Regions from separate parts of the Homo sapiens genome. Here region 1 is linked to region 2. Evidence: fine-mapped expression QTL. A gene starts in region 2. The other region holds a variant in brackets. All regions are shown on one strand. Distances are between the middles of the regions. Region 1 overlaps ARSG (arylsulfatase G). Region 2 holds the start of ARSG (arylsulfatase G).

Region 1 (12,461 bases), 20 kb before region 2:
TGCTTTCATCTCCTGTTTTACTTGATTTTTTTTTTTTTTTCCAAGACAGAGTCTCGCTCTTGTCGCCCAGTCTGGAGTGCAAAGGCACAATCTCAGCTCACTGCAACCTCCACCTCCCGGGTTCAAGAGATTCTCCTGCCTCAGCCTCCCGAGTAGCTGGGATTACAGGCACCCGCCACCACGCCCGGCTAATTTTTGTATTTTTAGTAGAGACGGGGTTTCACCACATTGGCCAGGCTGGTCTTGAACTCCTGACCTCAGGTGATCCACCGGCCTTGGCCTCCCAAAGTGCTGGGATTACAGGCATGAGCTGCTGCGCCTGGCCAATTGCTTAACATTTTTAAGTTTTAGTTGATTACTAAGTCCCTGACATTTTCATTTAAATTTCATTTCAATTATCTTCTGGCTATCTTATCATTTTTAAACTGATAAGTGTTCAACAGCACAGCCCAGCTCAGATCTACAAAGGACATTGGCAAAATGACATCCCACAAGGTCAACGGCAAAATAGGTTGGCTGCTTAACCTACTGACATGTGCGAGGGGACTTGGGGCCTTGCGGTGCATACATGAGCAATCTCTCAACACTGGGGGCCCTAAACGACAACGCCCTCTGATAAAGAGATGTTTGCTGATTTGCAGTAGCTTTGGGTTTTTCACATACAAAAAAAAAAAAACAAAACAGTTCATCATTATTTTTCATGTAGTCAATCTTTGAGCTAGCAAACCCACAAACCACATAATCGACCCCCACATGGCAGAGAGCTGATTATAACAGTAAAAACACTTCGTCTCTCTCGGCCTCAGTTTCTCCCAAAGGGATATGGTGACATGAATGCTCTTTGACCTGGGCTACTGTAAATGGGCTTAAGGCTGTGGGATTTTAGGCCATAATCCCTATTTTATCTCCATGTAAATAGAGTTTAGAAGTCTGAAAAGGGATACCAAAATATGAAGTCACCGAAAGATTCTGCTTTTCTTCCCCCAGATTCCTTTCTTCCTTTAACAAATAACGACATCATAATTGTGGTACGGATGGTGCCCTTTCTGTGCAAAAATGGGCAAATCACATCTCCTGCAACCAGGTTAAAAACAAACAAAAAACGAATCGTGTGCGCTGGCCACAAACTAAAAGGGAAATGTTACTGAGACCTTTAGGTGTTGACTTGGGGATTTGGTCTAGGAATGAGAAGAAACAAGCAGATTCTAAGAAGCCAGATGAGTCCTACAGCTCAACCTGGGGAAGGGTGAGAGTCTGGGAATAGATAGAGCAAGGTGCTTTTGGAACAGACGCTGAGAAAACAGGCCTCACCCTCCAGCCAGAGGAGGGAATTGTGACGAACAGGGGAGCAGGGCCGGTGTCATAGGGAATCATAAGAGCTAGCACCCATCAAGCACCAATACATGCCAGGGACCCTTTTGCTGCCTTATATGACCTAACTTATTTCCTCCTCACCATAGCCCTGTGATGTAGGTGCCATTATTTTCCCATTGCAGAGATAAGCATACTAAGGTCCAGCAAGGTTTAATAACTAGCACAGTGTCCCAGAGCTAGCAAGTAACAGACCAAGGCAGTCTAGTTCCAGCTCTCATGCTCGGGTCAACCCATGTGTGCACACCTAGAAGTTTAGATCCAGGAATCCAAGTACGTGAACAATTATTGTTTGAGCACCTACCATGTGCCAGGCATTGTTTTAGCCACTGAAGACATAAATAAGACAGATAAGGAGGCTGCTGTAAGGAGGCAATATTCCAGTGGGAGAGACAGGCAACAAAGAAGTAAACAAAGAAGATCATTTCAACAGTGATACAGGTCATGGAAACAGAACAGGAGAATGGGTAGGAGATGTGCATGGGGTAGGAAGGCAATGTTGGAGAGCACGGTCAGGAAAGGCCTCTCTGAGGACATGGTATTTGAGTGGAGGCCAGAAGGATGAGAAGCGATCAGCTGCTTGAAGCCTGAGGAGAGACCTCGCCAATAAGAGGCAACAGCCAGTGCAAAGGCCCTGAGGCAGGGAAAAGCATATGTTCAAGGAACAGAAACATGTGCAATGTGAGGAACATGAGGAGAGGGTTGGAGATGAAGCTGGAGTAGGCAGGATAAGATTGCAGGCACCTGAAACTGCAGCCATCACACATCCCTGGCTGGGTGAGCCTCCTGAACGATGGTTGCATCAACCATTTTGATGACTGACATCTAAATCCCATTTCTGCCTGGGTGCCACCCACGCACTTTGTAATCCCAGCACTTTGGGAGGCCGAGGCAGGTGGATCACCTGAGGTCGAGTTCAAGATCAGCCTGGCCAACATGGTGAAATGCTGTCTCTACTAAAAATACAAAAATTAGCCAGGTATGGTGGCACACACTTGTAGTCCCAGCTACTCGAGAGGTTAAGGCAGGAGAATCACTTGAACCTGGGAGGCAGAGGTTATAGTGAGCCAAGATCGCGCCACTGCACTCCAGCCTAGGCGATAGAGCAAGACTTCATCTTAAAATAAATAACTAAATACAATCCCATTTCTCAGGTTGCCTCTTATGCTTGGACAGCACAAAAATCCTTCATTAGCACCAAAGGGAGAAAAAAAATGATGAGATTCCAATCTCCTTTTTTTTTTGAGACAGGATTTCACTCCATCACCCAGGCTGGAGTGCAGTGACACGATCATAGCTCACTGTGGCCTCAACCTCCTGGGCTCAAGCAATCCTCCTGACTCCGCCTCCGGAGTAGGTAGGACCACGCCCAGCTAATTTATTGATTTTTTTGTAGAGATGAAGTCTTGCTATGTTGCCCAGGCTGCTCTCAAACTCCTGAGCTCAAGCAATCCTTCCGCCTCGATCTCCCAAAGTACTGGAATTACAGATGTGAACCACCACGCCTGGCCTCCTGCTCTTTGACAGCCATATGGGAAAGCTGGCCAAATCTTGATGGATTCTCTTTGCTGATTCCCCAGTTCTGCCCAGCCCTGAAAGAATAAGGCTCTAGAATGAGGAAATCTGAGTTTGAATATTGGCTTGGCCACTCACCAACTCTGGGCGTGTTACTTAACCTCAATTTCCTCATCTGAGATATAAGAGAAAAGTAGGGTGGTACCAAGAATTAGCCAGGGTAATGCCTAGAGCCTGGCACCTTGCAAGAGCTTGGTAAGGGTTAGTGATTGTTGCAGCTGTTGTGTTGATTCAAATAAAGGTGTTGGCCCCAATGCACAGCCAGCATAGGGATTAACAGGAATTTGTCACTGGAACTCCACCTCATCCTTCCAAGTTTTGTCACTGGACCTTTTATCATGCAGATTAGCCAATTCACACTGACATTCCATTTGGACATTTCTAGTAACAATAACAAAAATAACCATAGCTAACATAGAACCCTATCTATTGTATGCTAGGCTCTATGCTAACTGATTACACAGATTACTTAATTTTTTATTTTTTATTTTTTTTATGAGACACTCTGTTGTCCAGGCTGGAGTACAATGGCATGATCATAGCTCACTGCAGCCTTGAACTCCTGGCATTAAGGGATCCGTGTGCTTCAGCCTCTGGAGTAGCTGGGACCACAGATGTGCAACACCACACCTGGTTTACAGATTACTTAATTTTTTTTTTTTTTTTTTTTGAGATGGAGTCTTGCTCTGTTGCCCAGGCTGGAGTACAATGGCGCAATCTCAGCTCACTGCAACTTCCGCCTCCCGGGTTCAAATGATTCTCCCGCCTCAGCCTCCCGAGTAGCTGGGATTACAAGCATGTGCCGCCACGCCTGGCTACTTTTGTATTTTTAGTAGAGATGGGGTTTCTTCTTGTTGGTCAGGCTGGTCTCAAACTCCTGACCTCAGGTGATCCATCTGCCTCGGCCTCCCAAAGTGCTGGGATTACAGGTGTGAGCCACTGTGCCCGGCCCAGATTACTTAATTTAACCCTCACAACATCCTGTGAGGTAGAGGTGCTATCATTGTCCCCACTTACAGAAGAGGAAAGCAAAACTCCAGGGGATGATGCAGTTTGCCCGGGGCCACAGATAGGAAGTGGCAGAGCTGGGATTTGAGCTCAAACTGTCTGGCTCCTGCCCTCTTAAGCATGACATTTAGTCTTTAATGCGACAGATACTGACTGACCACCTACTACATTATAGACTGCGTTAGAAGCGGAGTAAAAAGAGATATGTAGGCCAGGCATGGTGGCTCACGCTTGTAATCCCAGCACTTTGGGAGGCCAAGGCAGGTGAATCACTTGAGGTCAGGAGTTCAAGACCAGCCTGGCCAACATGGCAAAACTCCGTCTCTACTAAAAATACAAAAATCAGCCGTGCGTAGTGGCAGGTGCCTGTAATTCCAGCTACTCAGAAGGCCGAGGCAGGAGAATCGCTTGAACCCGGAGGCGGAGGTTGCAGTGAGCCAAGATTGCACCACTGCACTCCAGCCTGGGCAACAGAGTGAAACTGTGTCTCAAAAAAAAAAAAAAGAGAGAGAGAGAGATACGTAATACAGCTAATTGCACCAGACTGAACAGCGTTCCCCTCAATTTCATATCAATCCAGAACCTGTGACGTGACCTTATTTGGAGATAGCGTCTTCGCAGATGTCATTAAGTTAAGATGAGGTCATACTGGAGTAGGGTGGGCCTTCAATCCAAAGACTGGTATTTTTATTAGAGGAGGGGAGTCTGGACACTGGCATGAAAGAACGCCTCATAACAACTGAGGCGGAGATAGGAGTCTAGAAGCCCAGAATGCCAAGGATTCCAGCAGGCACCAGAATCCAGGAGAGAGGCAAGGAATGGATTCTCTGTCAGAGCCTTCAGTCATAACCTTGATTTTGGACTTCTGGCTCTCCGAACTGTGAAAGGACAAAGTAATGTTTTTTTGTTTTTATTTTTGTTTTTTTTGAGATGGAGTCTCACTCTGTCACCCAGGCTGGAGTGCAGTGGCGCAATCTCGGCTCACTGCAATCTCTGCCTCCCGGGTTCACGCCATTCTCCTGCCTCAGCCTCCTGAGTAGCTGGGACTACAGGCACCTGCCACCATGCCCGGCTAATTTTTTGTATTTTTAGTAGTGACAGCGTTTCACCACGTTAGCCAGGATGGTCTTGATCTCCTGACCTCGTGATCTGCCCGCCTCGGCCTCCCAAAGTGCTGGGATTACAGGTGTGAGCCACTGTGCCTGGCCAGAACAAAGTAACATTTTAAGCTGTCCAGTTTGGAGTAATTTGTTCCAGCAGTCCTAGAAAATTCATGCACAAATAAAAAGGAGGCAACAGAACCGGGCGTGGTGGCTTGAGCGTGCAGTCCCAGCTAGTCACCCCAGACCCTGTTGGGCAATAAGAGTTCGTGTCTGAAAGTCATGGTTCCCCACTGGCCGTGAGTAGGCAGTGGGAGAAACCAGCGATGAATCAGTTCATGGCCTCACAGGAAGCCCGGCTTTCCTGTCAACAAAGAAGAATGAAAAGCCGTCGACCTCAGGCCAGAGGGCTAGCCACCTGGCCACTGTCACAAGGCTCAGATGGAAAGAAACACTTTCATAAGGGGGTGGGGAGAAGGAGAGCCCAACGAACCACATTTGGCATCTGACCCCTGAGTCCTCCTTTCTGCTCAGGATGAGAGTGTGACAGTAGAGACAGCACATGAGAAAAAAAAAACGTGTAGGCCTCGCAAATCTCAGCTTAAATAATGGGACTAATATTTCCCCGCTAACCTGCTAAACACTGAAAGCGGAAGTTCCTAAGCATTTGGCAACCCACGCCCTTTGGAGAATCTGGTAAATGTTCATGAATGGATGAACTCTCTCCCCAGAAAAGTATTCCTACATGCAAAATTTGGGGTGACATTCCAGGGCATCTTGAGCTCCTAGAGCCCATTTATTGATGAACAAATATTTATTAATTGCCCACTACGTACCAAGCACTGTGTTACATGCTAGGAATATAAGCGGGAAAGAACAGATGAGGCATTTTTCTTCCTGAAGTCCAGAGCTAGGAGGGAGGTGTGTAAGTTTTCTGTGGCTGCCATAACAAATTACCACAAGCTGTGTGGCTTAAAACAACAGTACAGGCCAGGCGTGGTGGCTCAGACCTGTAATCGCAGCACTTTGGGAGGCCAAGGCGAGTGGATCACTTGAGGTCAGGGGTTCGAGAGTAGCCTAGCCAACATGGTGAAACCCCATCTCTACAAAAATACAAAAATTAGCCAGGCATGGCAGCAGATGCTTGTAATCCCAGCTACTTGGGAGGCTGAGGCTGGAGAATCGCTTGAACCTGGGAGGTGGAGGTTGCAGTGAGCCAAGATCGCACTACTGCACTCCAACCTGGGCGACAGAGCAAGACTCCGTCAAAAAAAAAAAAAAAAAAAA[G/AG]TACAGTACAGGAGGCTAAAAGTCTGAAATCAAGATGTCGGCCGGGCTGGTACCTTCTGGAGGCTCTGAGGGAGAATCTGTTCCATGCCTCTCTCCTTGTTCTGCTGGTTGCCAGCGGTCCTTGGTGTTCCTGGCTTGTAGAGGCATGGCTCCAATCTCTGCCTCCATCTTCACGTCACCATCTCTCTCTGTGTGTCCCTGTGTCTTCTCCTCTTCTTATAAGGAAATGTCACTGGATTTAGGACCCACCCTAAATCGATTCTGAGATCATCGAGAGCCTTAATTAATAACATTTGCAAAGACCCTGTTTCCAAATATGGTCACATTCTGAGGTTCTAGATGGACATGAATTTAGGGAGGATGCTATTCAACCCAATGTAGTGGTCAGATGATTGAACAGCCACCACAGAAAGCAGCAAGGACCATCACAGAACACCCGAGGCATCCACGAAAGCTTTCCTGAGGCCCTCGTGTACAACTGAGACCTAAGTAGTGAGTAGAAACTAATTAAACAGAGGAAGTGGAGAGTGCACCAGGATGAACCCATCACACAGATGAAGGGAGGGCTCATCCAAAGACCACTGCAAGAGAGAAGAGTGGAGAAGAAATCAGTTTGGGGTTTTGTTGGTTTTGTTTGTTTGTTTTGAGACAGAGTCTCAGTCTGTTGCCCGGGCTGGAGTGCAGCAGTGCAATCTCAGATCACTGCAACCTCTGTCTCCCAGGTTCTCCCGTGCACCGCCACATCTGGCTAATTTTTGCATTTTCAGTAGAGATGGGATTTCGCCATGTTGGCCAGGCTGGTCTTGAACTCCTGTCAAGTGATGTGCCCACCTTGGCCTCCTAAAGTGCTGGAATTACAGGCGTGAGCCACCACACCCAGCCAAACTCCAGTTTGTTAGCTGTGGTATGGGGTATGGGTTTTATCCTTAGGGCTAAAAAATGTCTTTGAAGGACTGGAAGCAGAAGAGTGTTTCTACAAAGTTCACCTTGATGGAGGTGAGGAAGAACTGGAGTGGGTGAGACCAGATGCAGAAACTACCACCCACCAAGGGCGCGTATCTCAGGAAAAGCATCAAGCTCTAGGATGCAAGTGGCCAAAACTCTGTGGAGATGCCCTATGCGTCATCCTAAGCGGTGAGCTGAAATGATTCCCCCCGAACCACATGGAGGAGTTTCGCCCAGTGCAGACAGAATCCGAGCTGGACAATCAGACCAATGTTAGCCCAAGAAGAAAATCCTGAAGTCTGAAAGCTCTAACGCTTGTTCTCCATCTAAGAAGGGAAAGGAGCTGGGTGTTTTAACAAAAATCTGCAATAGCTGTTTTCTAAACACTTCAACTCATCAGATGCATAGGCTCCTCTTTTGTGGTCCCTTAGAGTTCAGTATGCCTTAAGTGTAAGCCACGCCTTTCATAAATAAGTGAGTCACATCTCCCACGCCTCACAGACTCTCTTTTGCTCTTCAAAGGCCATCTCCTCCCTTGAAACCCCAGGTTGGGTTCCACACCCTCGCTTCTGTTCTCCAAAAACTCTGGATGTTGGGGCTGGGTGTGGTGGCTCACGCTTGTAATCCCAGCATTTTGGGAGGCCGAGACGGGCGGATCACCTGAGGTTGGGAGTTTGAGACCAGACTAACCAACATGGAGAAACCCGATCTCTGGGGTTTCTCCCCAGGTGGCACACACCTGTAATCCCAGCTACTCGGGAGGCTGAGGCAGGAGAATCGCTTGAACCCGGGAGATGGAGGTTGCAGTGAGCTGAGATCGTGCCACTGCACGCCAACCTGGGCAACAAGAGCGGAACTCCATCTCAAAAAAAAAACACAACAAAACAAACAAACAAACAAAAAACTCTGGATGTGGGCTCAGAAGCTATTTGCTTATAATTCTTATTTCCCTTTCTTTCTTTATTTATTTACTTTTTTATTTTATTTATTTTTTTTTAGACAGAGTCTCACTCTTATTGCCCAGGCTGGAGTGCAGTGGTGCGATCTCAGCTCACTGCAACCTCTGCCTCCCAGGTTCAAGTGATTCTCCTGCCTCAGCCTCCCGAGTAGCTGGGGTCACAGGTGCCTGCCACTGCGCCCGGCTACATTTTGTATTTTTAGTAGAGAGAGGGTTTCGGCAGGTTGGCCAGGCTAGTCTCGAACTCTTGACCTCAGGTGATCCACCTGCCTCAGCCTCCCAAAGTGCTACAGGCGTGAGCCACTGCACCCAGCCTATTTACTTATTTTTTAAGAGACAGAGTCTCGCTCTGTGACCCACACTGGAGTGCAGTGGCACAATCATAGCTCACTGCAACCTTGAACTCCTGGGCTCCAGTGATCCTCCTGAGAGGTGACAGCGTGCTGGCAGTCCTCACAGCCCTCGCTCGCTCTCGGCGCCTCCTCTGCCTGGGCTCCCACTTTGGTGGCACTTGAGCCCTTCAGCCCACCGCTGCACTGTAGGATCCCCTTTCTAGGCTGGCCAAGGCGAGAGCCGGCTCCCTCGGCTTGCAGGGAGGTGTGGAGGGAGAGGCGCGAGCGGGAACTGGGGCTGCGTGCTGCGCTTGTGGGCCAGCTGGAGTTCCGGGTGGGCGTGGGCTTGGCGGGCCCCGCACTCGGAGCAGCCAGCTGGCCCTGCGGGCCCCGGGCAATGAGGGGCTTAGAACCCGGGCCAGCAGCTGCGGAGGGTGTACTAGGTCCCTCAGCAGGGCCAGCCCACCAGCACTGCACTCGATTTCTCACCGAGCCTTAGCTGCCTTCCTGTGGGGCAGGGCTCGGGACCTGCAGCCCGCCATGCCTGAGCCTCCCACCCCCTCCGTGGGCTCCTGTGCGGCCCGAGCCTCCTCGAGCACCACCCCCTGCTCCACAGCGCCCAGTCCCATCGACCACCCAAAGGCTGAGGAGTGCAGGCGCAGGGCGCGGGACTGGCAGGCAGCTCCACCTGCAGCGCCGGTGCGGGATCCACTGGGTGAAGCCAGCTGGGCTCCTGAGTCTGGTGGGGCCTTGGAGAACCTTTATGTCTAGCTCAGGGATTGTAAATACACCAATCGGCACTCTGTATCTAGCTCAAGGTTTGTAAACACACCAATCAGCACCCTGTCAAAACAGGCCACTCAGCTCTACCAATCAGCAGGATGTGGGTGGGGCCAGATAAGAGAATAAAAGCAGGCTGCCCGAGCCAGCAGTGGCAACCCGCTCAGGTCCCTTTCCACACTGTGGAAGCTTTGTTCTTTCGCTCTCTGCAATAAATCTTGCTACTGCTCACTCTTTGGGTCCACACTGCTTTTATGAGCTGTAACACTCACCATGAAGGTCTGCAGCTTCACTCCTGAAGCCAGCGAGACCACGAGCCCACCGGGAGGAACGAACAACTCCAGACGCACCGCCTTAAGAACTGTAACACTCACCGTGAAGGTCTGCAGCTTCACTCCTGAGCCAGTGAGACCATGAACCCACCAGAAGGAAGAAACTCCGAACACATCTGAACATCAGAAGGAACAAACTCCAGACGTGCCACCTTAAGAGCTGTAACACTCACCGCGAGGGTTTGCAGCTTCATTCTTGAAGTCAGTGAGACCAAGAACCCACCAATTCCAGACACACTCCCACTTCAGCCTCCCGAGTAGCTGAGACCACAGGAGCGTGCCACCACCGCTAGCTAATTTGCTTTTATTTTTTGTAGAAGTGGGATCTTGCCAGGTTGCCCAAGCTGGTCCCAAAATCATGGGCTCAGGTGAACCTCCCACCTGAGTCTCCCAAAGCATTGGGATTACAGCCATGAGCCACTGTACCTAGCCCCTTACTTTCCTTTTAACCTGTCTTCTCTACCAGACAATGAATAACTTGAGGGCAAAAATGTTTTATCTTGTTCACCTCTGTATTCCTAGCTCCTAACACATAATGAATGTTACTAGATAGATGGATGGGTGCTAGATGGCTGGATTTCTTCACGATGCTATGCTGGCTTCAAACCAAATTAATTAATAAATTAACTAAATCAGCATGGGTCCATCAATGACTCTTTAAGTGCTTTGCACGGCCCCTTCCCCTCTCAAGAACGGGAGTAAGACATCCAAAGAAAGGCTGGCCTGGCATCTCAAGACTCACCTCATTCCCTCCGAAGCCATCTTATCAAGGTTGGCAGTGTCCTTTGTTTCTGCCCAGTTTGCTCCCAGGTCACCCCACCCCATGTCATCGGCCAAAATAATCACAAAGTTTGGCTTCTGTCCTCTTGTTTTCCCACTGATGCAAAAATCCACAAGAGGATAAAGAAATCCTGAGAAACTCACTCCCGCCAACAAAACCTTTAGAAAAAGCCAGCCCATGGTGGTGAAGGCAGGATTCCGATTGTCTGGAGCGACGGCAGCCACCACTAGAGATTTTTCTGAGAGCTTCCTTTCTGCTCACTTTCAAAGCAGGAAGTCTCTGGGGAGCAGGGGTGGAATCTGCAAGAAGATGCTGGTGGCAGTGGTGATGGCAGTGATAACGGCTATAGGAATGTTGGGGGCTGTAGAAATGAGGCCCCCATCTGGAATCCTAATTCAAAAGAATCAGGAAATTTGCAATCCCTCATTTGGCTTGATCTTCTATGGTCAGTGTTTCCTCACCGCAGCTCAGTAAAATGACTGGTCGTGTTCAATAATTAGACATCAATGTCAACAACTGCTCTTTGGCCACTAAGAAAGTGACCCTTCTGTATTCAGGGCCTCAGAGCCACAGCACAGGCCTTACATCTGCTTGGCTGTTTGGGACTCCATCTGGTGACTACAGGATGAGTTCTCGCATCTGCAGAACACCTGGATGTTCTAGAAGCCGCCGTCAGCCCCGAATAACTGAGTAGCAGATGGTTGAGGGCTTCATGTTTCTGTAAGGTTTCCTGAAAGAACAAAAATTGACAAGAAAACAGAGTTAAAACTGCCAGTGCAGCTGTGTTTTACTCAGTAGCTTAGGAAATAATCACTTTTCCATGCCAACAGATGTTTTTATTCAAATATTTAACTGGTTCATCAGTTTCTCCACCTGAAAAATAGTGATGATAATAATATTCGCAATGGACCTATAGCGACAGGGTTGGAAGTAACATTAGAGATGATCTCTGCCAACCCACTCACTGTAGAGATGAGGATATTGAGGCCCAGTGTTCTGGGTGGGACCAGGACCAGCCCCCAATGCTGCTAAATCCCAGTGTGCCACTGAGAATTCCAGAAGGAGAGGTGAGACCCTTATTACCAAGACATGGTTATTTGTAACAGTCAAGCTATAACCTAATGTTTCTACATTTAAAAAAATTTTTGGAGATAGGGTCCTGCTACGTTGCCTAGGCCAGTCTTGAACTCCTGGCTCAAGTCATCCTCTTGCCTCAACCTCCCACATAGCTGGGATTACAGGCATGTGCCACTATGACCAGCTAAAATTCTTTTTTTTTTGAGACTGAGTCTCACTCTGTCACCCAGGCTGGAGTGCAATGGCACAATCTCGGCTCACTGAAACCTCCGCCTCCCGGGTTCAAGAAATTCTCGCAGGGAGCGGTGGTTCACACCTGTAATCCCAGCACTTTGGGAGGTCAAGGCGGGCGGATCACCTGAGGTTGGGAGTTTGAGACCAGCCTGACCAACATGGAGAAACCCCAGTTCTACTAAAAATACAAAATGAGCCGGGCATGGTGGCGTATGCCTGCAATCCCAGCTACTTGGGAGGCTGAGGCAAGAGAATCGCTTGAACCCAGGAGGCAGAGATTGCGGCGAGCTGAGATCGCACCACTGCACTCCAGCCTGGGCAACAAGAACAAAACTCCATCTCAAAAAAAAAAAGAAGAAAAAGAAAAAAGAAATTCTCATGCCTCAGCCTCCTAGTAGCTGGGATTACAGGTGCCCACCAACACACCCCAGCTAATTTTTGTATTTTTGGTAGAAACGGGGTTTCACCATGTTGGCCAGGCTGGTCTCGAACTCCTGACCTCTCAAGTGATCTGCCCGCCTTGGCCTCCTTAAGTGCTGGGATTACAGGTGTGAGCCACCACACCCAGGCCCAGCCAAAATTCTTGACAGAAGTTAATCTGGGGGAAAAGGAAATGGTTTTAAAAAGTTAATAATAGAATCTAGGTAGCAGATATATGGGTGCTTACTAAAGAACTCTTTT
Region 2 (12,461 bases):
GGTATTTTATTATGGCATCCTGAGCACCCCAAGACAGATTCCCCTAAAGTTTTAGGAATCTCTGAAGCCAAGGCTCAGGTAGGGGCAGAAATAGGGGTAAGACCCAAATTTAGGAAAAAAACAATTTAGTGAAGCAGTTACTTAGCAAATTTGCCTTTTGGGGAATTGACTTTTGAGATGTGTTATTTCCAGAGGAGTATGTATCCGGGATTCAGCAGTGATTTGCCAGCTGTGTGACCATGGATATGTTACAGAATCTCTTTGTGTCTCAGTTTCCTCCCTTACCTGAAAAATGGAGTTTTGGCCTGGAATTAGATATCAGGGGAAAAAAAAAAAAAAAAAAGAGTCACAGTAAACTTTCTCAACCCCAAACACAATGTGAGAATGAAATAATCCAACCCAAGTTCTCAGTAAGTGCTAAGAAATATTGGCTACTGTTAGTCCATCTCTTGATTGTTTTGAGGATAAAGGGATAATAAATATGAGAACACACTAAAAATGTGCTATGCAAGCCAAAGCGTTACTAACATTAAAATAAAACATAATGGCTGGGCACAGCGGCTCACGCCTGTAATCCCAACACTCTGGGATGCCGAGACAGGAGGATCACCTGACCCCAGGAGTTCCAGACCAACCTGGGCAACATAGCAAGACCCCATCTCTATTAGAAAAAAAATTTTTTTAATTTTAAAAAAAGATAAAAACATAACTATTCTGAGTATAGATGGCAAAATCCAGACTCCCTGCAGCTACTGGCTGAATCTGCCAGAATTGTTTGTTAAGCAAGCTCTGATGCTGGTTTCTGAACCTAGAGAAGACAGAAGCTACAAACACGCCACCATAGTCACAAACAAGGCAAAGAGGAAATAAAGACTGATTTCAGTTTACATTTTCAACGTTCCAAACTATGGTTCCTTGTTACACAATCCCATGACTATCTGTGCCATCTTGGCTAAACCTGAGCCAGGTCCCTTCAGCCAAGCAGACTCTAATAATAGCTGGCATCCTTGGAGTATGCTGCCTTCCAGCAAATCTGGTTTCGGACAATTTAACAATATGAGGTCAAGATGTAGGATGCGTGTGAGGGGAATCTCCCCTTTGTTGATGTTAATTGAAAATGGAAGTTACATTTCCATATCAGAAACATTTCAAAAGAACTCTTTGTCCAGGATGCTTGGCTAGCTAGGTGCTCAAGCAAGAAAGATCTACAACTCCAGGGCGGAAACTCTGTAAAGGCAGGGACATTCTGTATAGTTTATGCACTGCATAATTCCGGCACCCGGCCCAGAAGGTATTCAGTCAATATTTGCTGGATGAGTGCATGTAACATGAACATCAACAGCCCAGCCTGCTCTGCCTCGCCCTGCCAGCTTCATCTCATCATTCCCCTCAACTTAGATGACTTTTCTAAGTTCTTTCTTAGAAGACATTCACTTGTAATTCTCACTTGTAAAATTGTACTTGTTGAAATGCTGTTTTACGTAACAATCGCATGTGTCCTGTCTTCTGAACTAAACTATACACACTATGAGAGAAGGAACCACATCCTCTGAGGTGTGGTTTTGTGGCCTGGGAGACAACAGCAGTTGTCAGTGCTCACGAGTGGGCTATGGATGAGCAGAGGCCGCTTGGGTGGATGGACGGATGAACGATGGGCATGGGAGGGAAGGATGGAGGGATGGATGCTCCCTGGACCCAGTCCTGCTGTGTATCCCTACAAAGCTCACCTAACTCCACAGGCCCCCACCGATCACAGCAGGGCGGGGCCCCTCCTCACCATTTGCCCACAACACAATCCTGCAGCATCCTTGTAGTTTCTTCGCATCGTCCCCTAGCCATCTGGAAACTCACGGAGGCACTGCTCCTAAAGGGTTAAAATGGAAGCTTAACATTGCCTATTGTTCCTGGGAATCTAGAAACACAGGACAGGAGGTACCTGTTTAGACAAGATAGGGAAAGTCAGCATCTCCCTTTAGGCAAGAAACACAGCAGGAGAGCAGGTTTTTATTCATTGGGCCTTGAGGAACAGGGCAGGTGGAACAACTTCAACAACTATCTGAAGAAAGCGTGACTCGATCGGGGCAAAATCCACTGGTCCCACACACAGCCCTTCCCAATATTGCCAATGAGATCCCACGACCCACAACTGTGTCACACAGTTTAATGTGACGTGCATTCACTCCTAAATGTAATGTGATTTAAATAATTTTGTTCTGAGATTTGGAGTTGGTTGGTTGGTTTGAGACAGGGTCTTACTCTGTTGCCCAGGCTGAAGTGCAGTGGTGTGACAGCACCACCACACCCAGCTAATTTTTTAAAAATATATATTTTTTAGGCCGGAGCAGTGGCTCATGCCTATAATCCCAGCACTGTGGGAGGCTGAGGTGGGTGGATCACCTGAGGCCAGGAGTTCGAGACCAGCCTGGCCAACATGGTAAAACCCTGTCTCTACTAAAAGTACAAAAATTAGCCAGGCATGGTGGCACACACCTGTAGTCCCAGCTACTTGGGAGGCTGAGGCAGGAGAATTGCTTGAACCCGGGAGGCAGAGGTTGCAGTGAGCCAAGATCGCGCCACTGCACTCCAGCCTGGGCAACAGAGGAAGACTCCATCTCAAAAAAAAAAAAAAAAAAAAAAAAAATTTGTCTTAGATGTGGTGTCTTGCCGTGTTGCCCAGGCTGGTCTCAAACGTTTGGTCTTCAAGCAATCCTCCTGCCTTCATGCCAAAAGCACTAGGATTATCACACTCAGCCTGGGTTTGTTTTCTAGGACTTTTGCAACAGGCTTGAGATAATTTATAGAAGCCTCCCGGAGGCTATGTTCTCTATTTTTTTTTTTAATTTTTAAGCAGTAATAAATGGCAAAACTACAGGAGCAGTCAACTATGAAGACTGAGAAGCCTAGGAATGAAATTCAGTACTGATCAAGTAAAAGTTACTTCAGAGTTAATGACAGACACCAACGATACATCGATACTGCACCAAATGGTAACAGGTATGACAGAAATCAATCATCGGCCGCCCACACACACGAGTGGGAAGGTGACCTCACTGTCCCCAAATACAGAATGGCCTCACCTACCTCCTACCTTCTTCTCATGCTGTTCACCTCTCCCTTGGCTCAGCACCCCTTGCCAGTTCTCCCAAGGTCCTCTCTGCCAGTTGAAGGCTTCCCTGATCGCCATCCTCCTCAATCCCCCAGGACTCACAGGTTGAAAGAGTCGCAGCCAAGAGTTAGGGAACCTGACCATGAGCCAATCCCAGTGCTAAGCCCCTTGCACGTGTTAATTCAGTTAACTTAGCAACTGTACTAAGCCATGCACACAACTCTGTAGTATTATTATTATCATCGTCATCACTATCTGTGCCTCAGAACCCCTTGGCAAATCTTTAAATTCTCCCAGAAGTGTGTGTTTCCCAGTTTGAAGGGCCCTGCCTTCCTACAAACTGTGAAATTTGGCGGGGTGCTGCGGGGGAGGAACCCAAATCACAAAATAAACCTAGCAGAACTACCTGTACCATCGGTTCACTGTTGCTAGATGGCAGAGTGTGTGAAGTTCCTGGCCAATTGGAGAAGCAGATATTAAAGTTTTAAAGCAAGAAATTGCTTCAGTGGCATACAAGTCACTTGCCCAGAACACAAGCCCCTGGGTGGGAGCATGGTGGGTGGAACAGAGACTGGAAGAGGAAGAATGGAAGGGTGGGTGGGCCATCGAAGCCTCCCATGGAAGCCCCCTTCACATATTCTCCCCCTTTGATGGCTGCCCTGAAGAGTCAGCCCCCAAAAGCAGGCTTGCGGGACCCTCTTCCCAGAGGTCCAGACCAGATTCCTTTCAGTCTACTTACCCAAGTTGAAGTTCTCACAGGCTGGTAAATGCAGTGAGCTTATTTGCAAGCCAGGGTCATATCTGCCTAGCAACCCAACACGAAGACTTGAAGGACTATAAACGTGGACAGAGAACAGGCAGGCCAACTTTACACAAAGGAATCTGTTCTCATGCAAATGACCCTATGCAAGAGGGCTAAAAGAGGGAGCCTTGGGGACAGCTCTGAAGAGCCAACTTTTTCCCCAAGAAGATGTTGGGGGTCTTCTTAAGGGCATCATGATGGTCTTGCCCACTGTAAAGGAAAGCCGAGAGGGGGCTCTGCCTGCCACTTGGGATCAGGCAGACACAACAGGAGAGGCTAAGAGGGGAGCTGAGCCCTTCACTTGATTTCCTGATTTTTCTGGTCCTGTACTCCAGACTCCAAAGGTTCTTTTGTTCTTATTTAGAACTAAACAGAGTTAGTTTTGTTTGGGGGCAAGGGGGCGTTGATTAGCATGGCAATGCAGTGCTTTCTCTGGAGAAGTTAAAAAAGCAGGGGTTTTCACGCTTGGTCTCACTAGGATTGAGGGAACAAGGTGAAGCCAGCCTCTAACTAGGGTGGGCAAAAGTCATGTTGCGTGACTTTTTTGTGACTAGCAAGGCTGTGCGTAGGTTGGGTTTCCAGCTACCTCTCCATTATTCAAACACAGATGGCAAATGTCATCTTTGGATGAGCTCTAGTGGTAAAAAGTGCTAGTGTGTATCTATAAACATGGTGTAACCTTAGGTCAATCCCTCCAGTGCTCAGTGCCTCCACTTTCCTCATCTGTAAAATGGGAATAATGAGTGTCAACTACAGAAGGTTACTGATGCGGTTAACATTGCATTACATGTATGGCACTTAATGCAGTGTTGAGGACAAAGCAAACATTTAAAAAAGATTAATATTAATAAAATATAAGAATAGTAACACATTAGTAACAAAAATCTATTATTATTATTATTATTATTATTAGAATCATGCTCCCCAAAAGCCAGGTTTCACTTGCTCAAACATTCAGATGTGATTTTTCCAATCATTCATTCACTCCTGAGGATTTAGGTATAATTTGAGTCATTTTTTAAATCAAGAGACTGAAGTACAGAGATTTTATGTGACTTGCTTCGAGTCACTCAGGTATAAATGGCTGGCTGCACCTTTAGGTTCCTAAGACATACAGAATATGCTGTCATATTGCACATGATATTTCCATATAGAGTACAGTAACAGGTCCTAAGTATTAAAGTGTAAGATCCTAAATATCAAAGATTATCTTACAGGCAGCCCTGCATTAGCATGAAGTGTTCAAATCAGTTTCTAAATATCATTATATATGGATCCTTTGAAGAACAACTCAAAAAAGGGCTCTCTCTCACAGGGAGTGTGTTGGAGTCAGCAATTAATTGGCCTTGGTAAAGCATAAATCGTAACAGCAGCAAGAGCTAATGGGTACTGAGGCCTTACCAAATGCCAGTCACTGCGATCCGCACTTTACAAGTACCATAAATTAAACCCTCCAATTCTGGGAATACCACCTCCATCCCCATTTTACAGATCTGGAGAAATTAACGCTCTACGAGGTTAAATTACGCCTACAAGGTTGCAAAGCTGCTCAGCGGCCCCTTGGCTGTACACTACTGGCCATACAAGGCACCCTGTACCAACGAATCTTCTCCCCACTTACACAACCAGAACTTGTCAACGGCAAAGGATGGCATTTAACTCAGGAGAGCCTATCCCAAAATGGTGAGAGAACTCAGCGAGCAAGGAAGGATTTTTATTAAAATTCAGATCGCCGACTCCTCCCGGTGGCGACCCTCCGTGCATGCACTCCCAAACTAGGCTCTCTTGAGTTTCTGACATCAGAACCACATTCTCCGAACCCCAATGAAGGCAGCAGCCGGCGCCAAAGTCTGCATACGAATGCAAATAACATGGCCTTTGCTTCCGAGCAGTTTCCAAATTTGCCCTCGGGATGTGAGGTAGAGACCAAGAAGCTAAGTTTGCGCCCCCGCAGGCTCTGAAATGTCTAGGATCTGACACATGCTTTGTCCCCATGAGGAGCTCCTGAGATTTCGCGTGCATCATCCGCTTAGTTCACGGTGACCTTGGGGTCGGGGACTACGGGATGAGGGGCACGGACTGTCTAAACCTCCAGGTCCCTTACAGAGGGCTCCCCGCGGGTATGGGAGCCATGCACCTGTGCCGACGCCGCCACTGCCTGGAGGGTGCGCGCGCGCCCCGGGCCGGGGATGCTGACTCAGCCCGGCTGCTCACATTCCTTTCGCGCAACGCGGATGCTGTTGCTGCCGCTGCTGCCGGTGCAGCAAAGTGGGGGAAGCAAGGCACCCGCAGCGGCCCGGCCGCTCGCTCCCTGGGGCCCACTGCGACACTCCCTCCCCACTGCCGGAAGGGGAACTGTGGGGGTGCGCGAGTTGACGAAACTGGGGGAAGTGGGCGCTGCAGGAGGAACTCAGGCGCCGCGCGCGCAGCTCACACCCAAACTGGAAGGAACCTGTTCTGCCCGGGGCGGGCGCGAAGCCGCCGCAGCCGCGAGCGCCGCGCGGGATCAGCCCCGGCGCGCGCGTGTTCCCCCTCGCCGCTAAATCCCTAAATCCTCAGGGCGCGGGCGGGACTGGGCGGTGGGCGCGCCGGGAAGGCGCCCGGGGGTGGGGACGGGGACCCGCGCGCTCGCGCCTGGCCGAGGTGCTCCGAGACAGGATGCAGGCACCCCCAACACCCTGCACGCTCGCGCTCCTACTAGCGTTGCAGCAAAGCTCCGGGGTCTGGGCGGGTCACGCGCGCAGAGGCGCACCCGGGTTGGGAGATCGGGGCGTTGTGCCAAGGACCCCGGCGGCGCTGGCGGGGGCGGCCCGGCCCCGGACCGCGACGCGGTTACCTTTCGTGACCCCCAGCCCAGGCGGCAGGCTGGCGGGCGCGCGACCGGCGCGGCTCAGGTCCACGTGGGACGGCGCGCGCGCGCCAGGCAGGCCCCCTCCTTGGCTGCGCTCAGCGCTCGCAGCACATGGTCGGCGGCGGCGCGCCCCCGAGGCCGGCGGAGACCGGCTGCAGCCGGTATAGGATAAGAGCTAGGCAGCGACGCGGGGCCGGGGCGCGGGCGGCAGCACGCACGGCCCGGGTCGCAGGCGGCCGGGGTGGGGGGCGGGGGGAGGGTGTGGCTCGGGTGCCCGAGTCGCGGGAGTGGGTGGAGGGCCCGGGCGCTCGGGCCTCACCAGCCCGAGCCAACTTGCGCTAGAGTCGGGCCCGCCCCCTAAGGGGTTAATCCTTTTCTCATGTTACCGAGCGGCTTATAAGGAGGGGGAGGCCAAGCCTCCGCCTTATTGGGAGCCTTTGGGGGTTTATTCTCTTCCCTTCTAACTTGGTGAGTTGGTTTATTATTTTACATGTTTAAAAGTTTGATTGTGGGATGTGGGTTGTTTTTTAAAAAATATGTGTTGGGGCCTTTTTTTGTGATGGGAGGCGGAGGAGACCACTGAACATCTTCACATTTTGGAGAGGTTATTCCCAAAAATATTCGCTCTGACAGTTAGGAATGCCCAGGGCCACCGGGATGACGCGCTCGCGCCGGTGTGGGTAGCTGAGAGTTGAATGTCCGTGACCCTGGTACAGTTGGGTCCCGGAAGATACCTAAAGGCACGCCTGGCCTTTGAGTGCCCCCTGCCCCGGGTTGGGGGCTCCGGGACGTCGGAAGAGTCGGGGGCTCCAGGCTCAGCCCCTCCGCGGATTTTCCGCATGAAGTTGCCTGCGCGTCGCAGGAGCGAAATGTCAGAGGTACCTTCCTACCCCAGGCTGGCGCGCGCACGCAGGCCGGGCACTGAGGCAGCGCGAGGGAAAGTGGGGCTCCCTGCCTCCCCCGACCCCCAAACACAGCACTCCCTGCGGCGGCCACCGTTTGTCCCCAGCGGGAAGCCGGGGATTTCCCGGCAGAGCGCGGGTCCTCCACCTGGACTGTCAGAACTGTCAGCGGCTGACGGCCGGTCCCGCGCAACTTCAAGGTTCCCGGGCTGCCAACCGCAGGAAAGCGCTGGTGTCGCCAAGCAGTTCCGTAGCAAGGGAAGATGGTTTTGCAGAGGAAATGGGTTATTTCCTTCTAGGTTGTTGTCGTCTTTTCTTTTTATTCCCCCCACCCTAGCAAGACAGGTCATAGAAGTTTGTTAGGTGGCGTATATAAAATGTCACCAAACATGGGGGGCGTCAGTCTTAGAAAAAGCTCCCCGGAGCCAACTGGGGAAGAGCAATTACAACTTGTCAACCTGGAAGCCGGTTTTGTTTGCACGGTTAGACACTCCGTGCCAGCTCCTTCTCGCAGGAGATGGTTTCTACCCCGGGAATGAGATTTCTCAGTGATCTGATTGTTTTTGCAAATCATGGTAAGATAGGTGTCTTGCTTGTAAAAAAGATGCCAAGTGCTTATGCTGAAATCTCTAAACCATGCATCTCCCCATGTCCCAAGCACCGTTATGTGGCATTTTTGGGGTCAACAATACATCCGGCCAGATGATATAATAGAAACCCCTCTTCTCATAATTAAGGGAAGAGTGTCCAAAATAGGAACTTACAGTGTGTAAATAAACAATGCAGCCAAGTGGAAAAGCTCCTTCCAGTGTAATGAGTACCACTAACCCTGAGTTTTCCTTCTGTGGTTTCCGAAAAAGGACTTTCCTCAGTGGAACTCCTGAGGAGGACACTTAAATTAGGGGCTCAGGTTTCAACACCATAGTCTTGTAAAATGGTGACTCGGTTGTAGCCAGTGATTCAACATCGTGAGGCAGCTATCCAGGTTAGGTTTGGAAATTTTTTTTAAATAGAGAATGCAGATGAACTTTAGCCAAATACAGACTGGTTTTGACAACTTGGGCCAGAAACAACTTGTCAAAGCTGTTCTCCGGGCTACGCCTTTAAGAAGAAGAGAAATCCGCAGTGCTTTTGCTCGAGGTCTGCCTACAACAGTAGCCACCCCATTTCCATCCAGAGCCTGCGTTTTGAAACTTGCTCTTAGCTGACCCTGGAATAACACTCTGATGGTCTACAATAATACAATTTTTTTCATGCCCTCGGGCCAAATCTTCTCTCGACAAATTAAATCACAGTGAAACTCCCAAGGATAGCGGATTTCCAAGCCTTTGGCAAGATACCTACTTATTTATTTGTTTAGAGGCAGGGTCTCACTCCCATCATGGGAGTGCAGTAGCGTCATCTCTGCTCATTGCAGCCTCGACCTCCCGGGCTCAAGCGATCCTCCCACCTCATTTTTTAATTTTTTTGTAGAGACACAGCCTCACTATGTTGCCCGGGTTGGTCTCAAACTCCTGGGCTCAAGTAATCTGCCTGCTTCGGCCTCCCTAATTGCTGGGATTATAGGCATGAGCTACCGCACCCGGCCAATACTCATTTATTTAAGGGGACACTTAACCACATGCTACTAGGAAATCCTCCAAACTGCCCGTGGATTGTGTCATTGTACTTCCTCCAGAAGAACACTAGGGTGAAGGGAAGATGGCTGCCGGGAACCCCCATTCAGAATTGTCGAGTTTTGTAAGTTGGAAAAGGCTTGAGAGACTCCCCTGACAACCCATGCTTTACAGATGATAGAAGTTCTAGAAGTTCAGGATTCTGTGGTTTCCATAACTGTGCAGCCAGTTAATGGTACACAGAAATTAACAAATATGGCCTAAGAGCTTTAAGAAGACCAACTCTTCGGCCTTGCCTTCAAAGGGCTTAGAAGGATTAAAGCAAGTGACGGTCAAAGGCTGTCATAGAAGTATAGACTATTAGGGCAGGAAGAGATCTAAGCTCATCAGAGTCTAGTTCAACTCCCTTTTTTACATTTACCTTGATTTTACATTGACATTGAAAATGGGGAAGTGAAGTGATTTGCCTAAATTCCATCATCCGTAAAGCAGGGGTTGATGGGCAGGATGACTCAGCTCGCCTCACCAGTTAGATCCCTACACAGCTGAAAAATATCCCTACCCGTCAGATAAATTCACATGGCCACAGACCAAAGTGGACAGATAAACTTTTATATTCTGGAACTTACAGAGGCTTCTGCATAAATGAGTTCAAAATTCAGGCCTCAGTTGCTTTGTTTGCAGAGACAGAAGGTTTGGCCTTCTGCTGAAGGAATGGAAAAAAAGAAAAGGAGAAGGCCGGGCACAGTGGCTCACGCCTGTAATCCCAGCACTTTGGGAGGCTGAGGCGGGCGGATCACAAGGTCAGGAGTTTGAGACCAGTCTGACCAACATGGTGAAACCCTGTCTCTACTAAAAATACAAAAAAAAAATCAGCCGGGCGTGGTGGCATGCGCCTTTAATCCCAACTACTCAGGAGGCTGAGGCAGGAGAGTCGCTTGAACCCGGGAGGCAGAGCTTGCAGTGGGCTGAGATCGCACCACTGTGCTCCAGCCTGGGAGACAGACTGAGACTCCATCCCCAACCCCCAAAAAAAAAAAAAAAAGAAAGGAGGGAGGGAGGGGGAGAGAGAGAGAGAGAGAAAGAGAGAGAGAAGAGAAGAAGAGAAGAGAAAAGAAAAAAGGGAGAAGAGTCCAGGAAGGGTTTTATTCTGCAACCAAGCACTTTCTCCCCTTATGACTCGGTTTTTTAAGGAAAGACCTGTGCATGACTTTACTTAAATACAGGCATTATCACCCAGGAAGGTTCAGAAACCAGGTTATCCTGTTATTACTTTATATTGTGGTCTTATCTTCAAAGCTAAATTTAATAGGACATAGGATGCTTTAGGATGATAAAGGCATAAACCTTGGGGGTAGGACGGGGTTCAGGGTGTCATCTTTCCTTGATGGAGATCTCAGTTATAAAAAGAAAAGAAAGCTTCTGTCCAAAAACCCAAGAATGCAGGTGAAAGTTATATGTGGCTCTAGCTAGAGTAGAATAGCTCAGACATAAAGCAGAGTTTTTTAAAAAAACTAAGGAATTAACTTCCCAGCAGTGGCTCAGAAAGGAAATAGAAATGAATAGTCCACCATCTGGCTAGGTGAGGTGGCTCACACGTTTAATACTATCACTTTGGGAGGCCGAGGTGGGAGGATCGCTTGAGTCCGGGAGTTCCAGACCAGCCTAGGCAACATAGGGAGACCCTGTCTCTATTAAAAAAAAAAAGAAGAAGAAGAAGGCTGGGCATGCTGGCTCACGCGTGTAATCCCAGCACTATCGTTTAGATACTATCTAACGTTTAATACTATCACTTTGGGAGGCCAAAGCAGGCAGATCACCTGAGGTTAGGAGTTCAAGACCAGCCTGACCAACATGGTGAAACTCCATCTCTACTAAAACAAAATTAGCCGGGCATGGTGGCGCATGCCTGTAATCCCAGCTTCTTGGGAGGCTAAGGCAGGAGAATCACTTGAACCCGGGAGGTGGAGGTTGCAGTGAGCTGAGATTGTGCCATGGCACTCCAGCCTAGGCAACAAGAGCGAAACTCCATCTCCAAAAACAAAAACAAAAAGTCCACCATCTTCTAAACAGCTGTCATAGAATAGATCTAAGCAATGACCAGCTAGCTACTTTACACCCATGTTTGCAAGAACCATCTAGCATTTACACTTTCTCCGAGCTCAGTTTCCTTGGGCCACCAGGCTTCGCTTAAGCCATCAGTTGATTAATAGAATTCAGTACTAAATTCAAAAGTATCAGCTGTTTCTCACACCTGTAATCCCACACTTTGGGAGGCCAAGGCGGGCAGATCACTTGAGGTCAGGAGTTCGAGACCAGCCTAGCTAACATACTGAAACCTCATCTCTACTAAAAATACAAAAATCAACCGGGCATGATGGTGGGTGCCTGTAATCCCAGCTACTCGGGAGGCTGAGGCAGAAGAATCGCTTGAACCCGGGAGGCTAAGGTTGCAGTGAGCCAAGATCGTGCCACTGCACTTCAGCCTAGGTGACATAGCAAGACTCCATCTCAAAAAAATTAAATACAATAAAATGCTCTCCTGTAGGCTTGTACAGCAGGAGCCCTGGAAGGCAGGAGATTCAGTATTGGGCTATTTCAGTCAAGTCCCTTCACCTCTTGGGGATCAGTTTCCCGATTTTACAAAATGAGTAAGATTTTACAAAAAGGAATTGAAAAAGATAACCTCAATTTTCCCCTTCAGCTTTAACATTCAATAATTCTAACTCTATTCAGGGGTTACAGATTCATCCTAGCCCCATCCCTTTTGCAAGTGTAAACATCTGATGATACAGGCAAGGGAAGAGAGGAAAGGGGCAGCTGGCACCAGAACTTCAGTGCTGGCCAGACAGAGCCTTCTCATGATGGCAGGTAATCTCAGCTCATACAAAAACTGCAATCTGGTCCCACTCATCTAAATGCAACCCACAGCCCGGTCCACATGGTGAGACCCTGTCTCTACAAAAAATAAAAATTATGCCAGGCGCGGTGGCTCACATCTGTAATCCCAGCACTTTGGGAGGCCGAGGTGGGTGGATCACGAGGTCAGGAGTTCCAGACCGGCCTGGCCAACATGGTGAAACCCTGTCTCTACTAAAAATACAACAAATTAGCTGGGCATGGTGGCGGGCGTCTGTAATCCCAGCTACTTGGGAGGCTGACGCAAAGAATTGCTTGAACCTGG

What was found. PIP is the estimated chance that this variant, and not a neighbour inherited with it, causes the effect.
Region 1: its variant is fine-mapped to the expression of ARSG in whole blood (INTERVAL, PIP 0.92).

The regions. Positions count from the first base shown.
Region 1 is chr17:68,305,681-68,318,141 of GRCh38, reverse strand. It overlaps ARSG (arylsulfatase G), which reads right to left. Exons shown (of 12, transcript NM_001267727.2): 2 at 10,431-11,199. The coding sequence starts at 10,648. Among named protein-coding and RNA genes, the nearest start is that of ARSG, 20 kb to the right of the region's middle. The variant G/AG (reference allele first, on the strand shown) is at 6,342.
Region 2 is chr17:68,285,852-68,298,312 of GRCh38, reverse strand. ARSG (arylsulfatase G) reads right to left here and starts at 6,818. Exons shown (of 12, transcript NM_001267727.2): 1 at 6,745-6,818. SLC16A6 (solute carrier family 16 member 6) reads left to right here and starts at 7,186. Exons shown (of 6, transcript NM_004694.5): 1 at 7,186-7,227. RefSeq lists an enhancer at 5,731-5,960 and silencers at 6,820-6,994, 6,361-7,050.